Homo sapiens: one gene and its partner. The protein of the gene in region 1 interacts with the protein of each later gene in a biochemical or structural test. Each region holds a gene or a part of one and is shown in the gene's direction. Other genes may lie near its edges.

What was found.
Region 2: the proteins of FRMPD1 (region 1) and TBC1D10A interact in a test that uses a peptide from one of them, tested with the Homo sapiens proteins (one large-scale study listed by IntAct).

Annotation. Positions count from the first base shown.
Region 1 is NC_000009.12:37,730,208-37,734,459, forward strand, and holds part of FRMPD1 (FERM and PDZ domain-containing protein 1), read left to right. Parts: intron 1-776; coding exon 777-896; intron 897-2,096; coding exon 2,097-2,233; intron 2,234-3,265; coding exon 3,266-3,392; intron 3,393-3,522; coding exon 3,523-3,618; intron 3,619-4,252. UniProt on the Homo sapiens protein: Stabilizes membrane-bound GPSM1, and thereby promotes its interaction with GNAI1.
Region 2 is NC_000022.11:30,319,513-30,323,941, reverse strand, and holds part of TBC1D10A (TBC1 domain family member 10A), read left to right. Parts: intron 1-4,429.

The DNA of each region.
Region 1 (4,252 bases):
GGGAAGCATTTGTTGCTGTGTCTAAGCCCTTCTTGTGGGACTTACCCCCGATATGGTTCCTGATGGCAGAATAGGGTAAACACAGCCAAACGGTCTATATCACTCAATCTCCCAACCATTCAATAATATGTTGTACCAACTTTTTAAAGCTAAACACAGGTTAGTTCAACAAATCTTTGTGAGTCTGTTACAAAGATGAGGAGGATTTTAACAGTTGGAAATGAGTAATACATAACCTCATAAAAGCCACCCTGAACATTCCTCTTTGCAGATGAATTCTTACCCAATGCACTCACCGATTAGAAGGTTTACTGCTTGCAGACTTTTTAATTACTTCTATTCCATTTGCATTGGGAAAGAAAATCACATTAAATCCCTAAGATAGTTTAAGTGAAATAAAGTAAGTTGTAGAATGGTATGTATACTATATTATTATTTGTGGAAGATAAAAGAATAGACTTATACTGAAGCATGAATATACATAAACTGTCTCTGGAAGGGGCACACAAGAAACTGAAAACAGGAGTTTCCTCTGGAAAGGGAAACTGGAAGATAGGTGAGTGGGAAATGCTGCCCTTTTGAACCTTTTACATTTTGTACCCAGGAAAAAGAAAGTCAAATTAGGAGTAAAGGTCTATGGCTGTCTTGGGAAGCACTAGAATTGAAATCTCTGGGAACTGTCTTTCACTGTCTGTGTTTTATAGAGTGGTTTTGTGGAATGACTGCAAGGACAAAGGCAGTTAGGAGATTAATAGTATCTCCCTTACCCATCGCAGGTGGTAGAAAGGGAGGAGTCACATGACTACCGCTGCCTCTTCAGGGTCTGTTTTGTTCCCAAGGACCCCCTGGACCTCCTGAAAGAAGACCCCGTGGCCTTTGAATACCTCTATCTGCAGGTGACTGGGTCTGTGCTTCCTAAAATAACAGTGGTTGTTCTCAAAGATGGTGCACTGGGTGATTTTGAACGTGAGCTCGAGGCCATTAAACAACTCCCTGGTAGGGATTCTCTTTATCTGAAGGAGAATGGGCCTGATCATCGCTCAGAATTCCCTTTTCCATCACTGAGTTGCTGTTTTAGCAGGTGTGCGATATCAGAATGAAATTCAGGCTCAGTCCTCAATGTAGATGATACATTTTCTAATACCATTTTAGGATCTTTAGAATTACAGTTTTTATTGCCAAAAGGGGCCTTAGTGCTTTAAAACCTCGTTTTAGAATGATGACACTGAGTCTTGGAAAGGTCGTGTGATTTGCCTGGGTCACTCACTTAGTGGCAGAGCCAAAACCTGGTTCTTGATCCGTGGCCTGGTGCTCCCCCTATTCTACCTCCTTAGATGAGAGTTATGATGCCATTTTTATTCTGATGAAAAATAATCATTTGGAGCCGGGTGCGGTAGCTCACGCCTGTAATGTCAGCATTTTAGGAGGCCGAGGCAGGTGGACCACTTGAGGTCAGGAGTTTGAGAACAGCTTGGCCAACATGGTGAAACCCCGTCTCTACCAAAAATACAAAAAATTAGCCAGCCGTGGTGGCACACACCTACAGTTCCAGCTGCTTGAGAGGCTGTGGCAGGAGAATCACTTGAACCTTGGAGGTGGTGTTTGCATTGAGCCAAGATCATGCCACTGCACTCCAGCCTGGGTGACAGAGCGGGATTCTGTCTCCAGAAAAGAAAAAAAAAAAGAAAAAGAATCATTTGGCAGATATCACCATTTTACAGATGAGATAACTCAGACTAGGTGGATTGGACTGCCCCAAGTCTTACAGAAATGGTGGCAGAAAATAATAATAATAGCAATAACAACGCCATCAATACTTTATATTTGTATAACACTGTGTGCCTTATACCTGCTTTCATATGCATTATCTAATTTAAGTCTCACAGAAACCACATAAGGTAGATTTTACTATCCTCATTTACCAGACACCAAATGCTTGGAGAGTCTTGGTAACTTAACCAAGGTCACACAGCCAAGAACTGTCAGAGCCAGCTCTCAAAGCGGAGCTCCTGGTCCTGCTGCCTTTCACCCGAGAGAACGAGGGGACACAGTATGTCTGCTTTTGTTTCCCATCTGCTCTATTTAATCTCTTCTAGAGCTGCAGCGATGTGCTCCAGGAGCGCTTTGCTGTAGAAATGAAATGTAGCTCTGCACTCCGACTCGCGGCTCTGCACATCCAGGAACGGATCTACGCCTGTGCCCAGCCACAGAAGATCTCTTTAAAGTATATAGAGTGAGTGGCAGGGGATGGCAGCTGCATTGCATTTATAACTTGCTGGCCCCTGGCCAGGAGGGCCAGATGCCACAGAAAGCTGATAGTCACCCACCTACCCATCTGTCTGTTGTCTTTCCATCCATTTCCCTCTGCACCCTCTCTAATCTGACCTGGCTCCCCCAGATGTCTGAACCTGGCTGCTCTCTCTGGGACAGAAGCCAACTCCAGATGGAATGTCACAGGATTCCCTTGTAAATTGCCTGTTCCTGGGAAGATGTCTTGGGAAATCAGTTGCCAGCATCAGTGTTAAGCTTTTCTAGGGGTGGGAATGCCTTGGAAGTTAATTTTTCCCGTGGATATGAACCAGTTCCTATTGCATTATGTCTCCACTAGAGCAGTTTCAAGTCCTACGATTCCAGCACCTTCTGATTCTTAGCTTAGAATTGTTCTGGACAGCATCACTCAGGTTTGCTAAGCCCCTCCCCAGATCTCAGCTCTGTCCTGCCTGAGCATCAGAATCAGATGGGGAATCATATTTTTAAAAATACAGCATATCCTTGGCCCTACCCCTGATGTACTAAGTCCAATCTCTCGCAGCAGGGCCTGAGAATCTGTAGTTTTAGCAATTTTCTGGGGGATTTTGAAGCTGCTAGGCTGGCACCATGCTGAAGCTTAGCCTAGGGGATTCACAGGAGCTCTGCGTTGCCCCATGAGAGTGTCTTGTACTCTCTTGTATGCTGTCATTATTTGCCATGTATTTTGTAGTGAAAAAGATTCAGAACTCCTGCTCTGACTGATAGATGGTCACACCACACCAAGAGTAATGAGCTCCCAGAATGATCAATGGGGTTTAGTTCCTGAATGCCTGTGGGGATTTTTGTGGAGAGTGTGTGTATGTGTGTGTGAGAAAGAAAAAGAGAGGAGGAGAAAGTGGCTCGTAATTGCTGTATTATGGGAACACTAAGTACTGAATCAAATGTAATTATGCTCTTCATTAGAGCCAAGTACCCTGTAGAAATGGGCCTCCTTGTCTCCAATGTCTCATGGCAGGAAAGACTGGGGAATAGAGAACTTTATATCTCCAACTTTACTCCGAAACATGAAAGGCAAAGACATCAAGAAAGCCATTAGCTTCCACATGAAGAGGAACCAGAATTTGCTGGAACCCCGACAGAAGGTAATGAAGGTGCCTCTGCCGACCCACTCAGCTGTCGTCTGTGAAACCTTAGGAAAAACATTTTCAACACTGCCTGGATTTTAGACCAATGAATAACTCTGACTTCAAGTGTTTTTTTTTCTCTATTAAGCAACTTATTTCTGCTGCCCAGCTACGTTTAAATTATCTACAGATCCTCGGAGAACTCAAGACATATGGTGGAAGAATCTTTAATGCTACTTTAATGGTATGTATTAGAGAACTGTGAAATCCTACTCACGTAAGGGACCTTAGAGATCCTCTGAAAATCAATGTGTCTTTTAGCCTAAAATTCCTGAGGACTCTGTCATGTACTAGAATTTGTCTGGTAAACTAAATAGTACACCACTGGAAAATATTTACCACGCGTTTGCTTGGTGCTACCCCTGTGATAGATGCTAGGGGAAGCAGGGCTGAATAAGATGTGATTTCCGTCCTTGAAGGATGAAACAAGCTACCCAACAAAATGAAGCAAAGCCATGAGACAGGTTCAGGCCTATTGCTGTGGAGTTTGGAGACAGAAGGTAGCACTGCTTGCTTCAGGGTAAGTATAGGGAGGAGAAGGGGTTAAGGAAAGAGGCAAGAGGAAGCCTGAATTTGGCCAGACTTCAGTAGAGAGGAAAAGGCATTCTGGGTCAGAAGGGGATGGTAAGCAGTTCACTCTGGAGCTTTGGGTATATGAAGGTGAAGAGGAAAATTGGAAATCATGAAAGAAAAATAAGAGTGTTTGACTGCCAAGCTGAGTCTCTGATTGTTCAGAAGGGAGGAATGAGGGGTGGGCCTGAGAAGAGAAACGAGAAGCAGAAAAGCCCTCTGCTCTCTTCCCATTCTCCTGCCTGCTT
Region 2 (4,429 bases), on another chromosome or scaffold:
TGGAGTGCAGTGGCGCAGTCTCAACTCACTGCAACATCTGCCTCCCGGGTTCAAGTGATTCTCCTGTCTCAGCCTCCTGAGTAGCTGGGAGGCAGAGATTGCACCCATCACCACACCTGGCTAATTTTTCATATTTTTAGTAGAGATGGAGTTTCACCATGTTGGCCAGGCTGGTCTTGAACTCCTGACCTCAGGCGATCCACCTGCCTCAGCCTCCCGAAGTGCTGGGTTTACAGGCATGAGCCACCATGCCTGGCCTGTAAGGGATCTTAATAGATTGACCAGCTCAGCCCTTACTTACATAGATGAGGAAACTGAGGCCCAGAGAGAAGAGTAACTTTCTTAAGATCACAGCATATTAGTGGCAGAACTAGGACTTGGACTTAGGGTTTCTGACTCCCAGGTCAGTACAGTTTCCACTGCCTTCACCATCCATAAATATGGCCTTTCGTCCCTGCAGGATATCAGGTGTCAGACAGGTAGAACAGAAGTGTCTTAGCAGTCACCTGCCTGCTCTTACCTTCCCTGACTTAGCTCAGCACTTTCGACTCTCTCAGCAGTATATGAGGCTAATAGAAGTGGCCCAGAAGGATAAGAATATGTTGTCATTACCAGTTCATTAGACTGATTAGCTTCAGGACTGGGAAGAGGCTCATTCACCTTTTTCTCCTCAGGCCTGCGGTGGAGTAATTAATACTTATTTGCGGGGAGACATTTCAAGTCAGGAAGCTGAAAGTGGCAGGGCATGGTGGCTCACGCCTATAATCCCAGCACTTTGGGAGGCTGAGGCAGGTGGATTCCTTGAGTTCAGGAATTCGAGACCAGCCTGGGCAACATGGTGAAACTCCATCTCTACAAGAAAATACAAAAAATTAGCTGGGCATTGTGGTGGGCACCTGTAATCCCAGCTACTTGGGAGGCTGAGAGGTGGGAGGATCTCTTGAGCCCAGGAGGTGGAGGTTGCAGTAAGCCAAGATGGTGCCACTGTGCTCCACCCAGCTCTTTCTTGAGACAGAACATGACCCTGTCTCAAAAAAAAAAAAAAAAGACTAGGTGCTGTGCCTCACGCCTGTAATTCCAGCACTTTGGGAGGCTGAGGCAGGCGATCGCTTGAGCCCAGGAGTTCAAGACCAGCCTGGCCAACATGGTGAAACCCCATCTCTACAAAAAATACAAAAATTAGTTGGGTGTGGTGTCATGCACCTATAGTCCTAGCCACTTGGGAGGCTGAGGTAGGAAGACTGCTTGAGCCCAGGGAGGTGGAGGTTACCGTGAGCTGAAATCACGCCACTACACTCCAGCCTGGGAGACCTTGCCTAAAAAAAAAAAAAAAAAAAAAAAAAAAAAAGCTGAAAGTGACCTTAGAGATGGCCATCAGCATACAGATGGATAAACTGGAGGCCTGTGAGAAACCTGGAATTCCTGATTCCCAGTCCTAGGCCTTTCCATTTCTTCACCTTGTCTGTCTTTTGAGCCTACTCCGCAGGGAACCTTTAGTGAGACTGAGATGGTCCCTGTCTGTTTTTGAGTAGTAGCCACAGACAAGAAAGCAGCTTGCCAGTAAATGATCCTGTGGGTGGCATAGGCATAGATCAGAGTGCCGACAGCATTAGTTCTTCTGGCTTGGCTGGAGACCGAGTGGGGCATTGAAGCCCAGGAAGGGCCGGGTGCAGTGGTTCACCGCCGTAATCCCAGCACTTTAGGAGGCCGAGGTGGGCAGATCATTTGAGGTCAGGAGTTTGAGACCAGCCTGGCCAACATGGTGAAACCCCGTCTCTACTAAAAATACAAAAATTAGCCAGGCGGTAGTGGCTCACGCCCATAATCCCAGCTGCTCAGGAGGCTGAGACAGGAGAATCGCTTGAGCTTGGGAGGCGGAGGTTGTAATGAGTTGAGGTCATGCCACTGTACTCCAGTCTGGGTGAGACAGACCGTGTCTCAAAGAAAAAAAAAAAAAAAAAGGCCCAGGACCAGTTGAGGAAAAAGATGTTTTCAGCAGGGAAGGGTGGGAGGAGTGATGATACCCCTCCTGTCACTTTGGAGCAGGAAGAACAGACTTGTTTGGTGTCCCTTCTGTAGCATAGAGGAAGTGGTTGGGAAGGGAAAGAAGGATACAAGTTTTATACCAGGTCTCCTGGCCCGAGGGAGGTGACCTGAGAGAGGTGGTCCCTGACCTTCTTCTCCTTTTCCTATGTGATTGTCAGGTCTGGCCTCCTGAGGCTGAGAGCTTCCCATCCAGCCTCAGTCCGCCCAGTCTGCAGGCCAAATGAGGTGAGGAGCTATGCTCTTTGGGATCCCATGGGTGTTGGCTTCCTGTTATGGGAGCAAGGGATCTGAGCTGGGCCCAGGGAGAAACATCTGGAATAGCAGTATTGCCTTCTTTAGTTCTCATTCCCTGGGCCTTTCATTACTAGCCAACTTTGGAAATCATAGAACTGGCTTAATTGGCATCCCTATAGTTTATTGTGTGCCAGTTTTTATTGGAGTGGGGTCAGGGCCCTCCTGGCAGGCCAGATTCTGACTCCTTGCCTTATTCTCTAGTTAGTAAACTCAGAGCATCTACTTTTCTTGAGCTGTTACAGATCCCAGGAGAGCATGGAGCTGGCATTGGGGTGGTCCCTGGGTGGCCCATCTGGAAGGAGGCATTTGTACATATGGGGCCCTGGGCTGTGACTCTAGACTGCAGGCCCTCCCATTTTCTCTCATTTTTCCCTTCTTAGCCTCGAAGGAATATCCGGTTTGGTGGCCCTGTGAGTGTTAGGTCCTCAGACAAGACCTGACTTGGTAAAGGAGGGAGCCGGCACACCAGCTGCTACCCTGGGAAGGTGCCTGAGTGTCCGCCTGCTGGGAAACTCTAAGCTGTGGGAAAGAGATAAGATGGTAGCACCTACTTGATGTTTTGTCCTACCAGCATCTGGGCCTGAAACAGGACCTCCCAAGGGGCAGTGAGGCCTGGCTGTGGCCCAGCCACCCAATCTGTTTATATCGAGGTGGGCAAGAGAAGGTACTGTGTGCTCCCTCCTCACACAAGCGCCAGAATCTGGCTGGCTGTGTGATCTTGGACATGTTGCTTCACTTCTCTGAGCCTCAGTTTCTCACCTGCAGAATGGTTATGATAACACTGACTTTGCAGGATCATTCTGAGGTTTAAATGAACTAATAATACAGGGTAGGTGCTCAGTGAATGTTCTTCTCCCTCTTAAAGACTGGAGCAGCTCGTGGTTCTATCTTTTCATTTTCTACTTCCCATCTTTGGCTATAATGATGAGTGTCAGTGAGGCCCAGCCCCTGTCGGCAGGAATGAACCCTAACCCATGGTGAATCCTTACTTCCCCTGAGAGGGGTGATTATCCCCATTCTGTGGATGAGCGTACTGAAGACCGAGGAAAAAGTGCCCAAGGTTTGCCAGCTGGTAAATGGCAGAACTGGGACTAGAACCTGTTTCTTGACACTGCATCCAGTAGTGACTACACCTTGCTAAGGTGGCAGCAGGCAGGGTGCCAGGTGCTTACTGTCCCTAAGTCCCTAAGGTCCCTGAGGTCCCCACACCCAGGGCAGGAGTTAGCAGGAATCTGGCTACCTCCCCCTTCCAGTATGGAGGGCAGAGCAGGTCTCAGTACAGGGAAAGGTCATGGCCATCAAGCAGGAGAAAGGCACAGGGAGGAAAATCCTTGGAGAGGTCCTGGAAGCATGGCCAGATCAGGCCTGATTTAGTCCTCCCATAGGCCAGAGTCCGGATTGCATTGGTCTTGACCCCAACATGCTGCATAATGGCCATTTGACTTTGATATCTAGTCTGTGCCTTTTGGAAGAAGTGTTACTTTGTAGATGAGGCAGGGATTATGTTGCTTGTACCGGTGAGGAATCTGAAGGTTGGAGAACTCTTGCTGTTAGTGAACTGTGGAGCCAGACCGGAGAGGGATCCCAGGTCCTCCGACTGTCACCCAGTGCTCCTCTAGCTACATAGCACTGACCATTCTCTTCCCCTTTCTCTTCCTCAGTCGAGGTAATTGAGCCTACAGGCTCAGGATGCATTGCCGACTAGAGCAGAGCCCTGCCATCATCCATCCGTTGTCCTAGCTGATCACTTTATCCTGCAGACAGTACACTTGAGGGGTAGGAGGCCTCCTTTAACTGATTAGTCTGCCCCTGGTAAATCTATTGCCGCAATCCTGGGCCCAGAGACCCTCTCCAGCAGGGAGAACACTGTACTGGCCACCCCACTGGCAAGTCAATGCTCCTGATACTTAACCAGCTTAGAAGCCCCCACCTAGGATTTCAGGGCAGCTGCCAACTTTGGCTTTCTCTGTCTCATCCTTCCATTTCCCGTCTCTCCTCCCCCTACCCTACCCTACTCCATTCTGTGCCCTGTCCAGGTCTTCAGAGGCTGCCATAGCTTAGCACTCAACACCTCTTCAGGTAGAGAAAT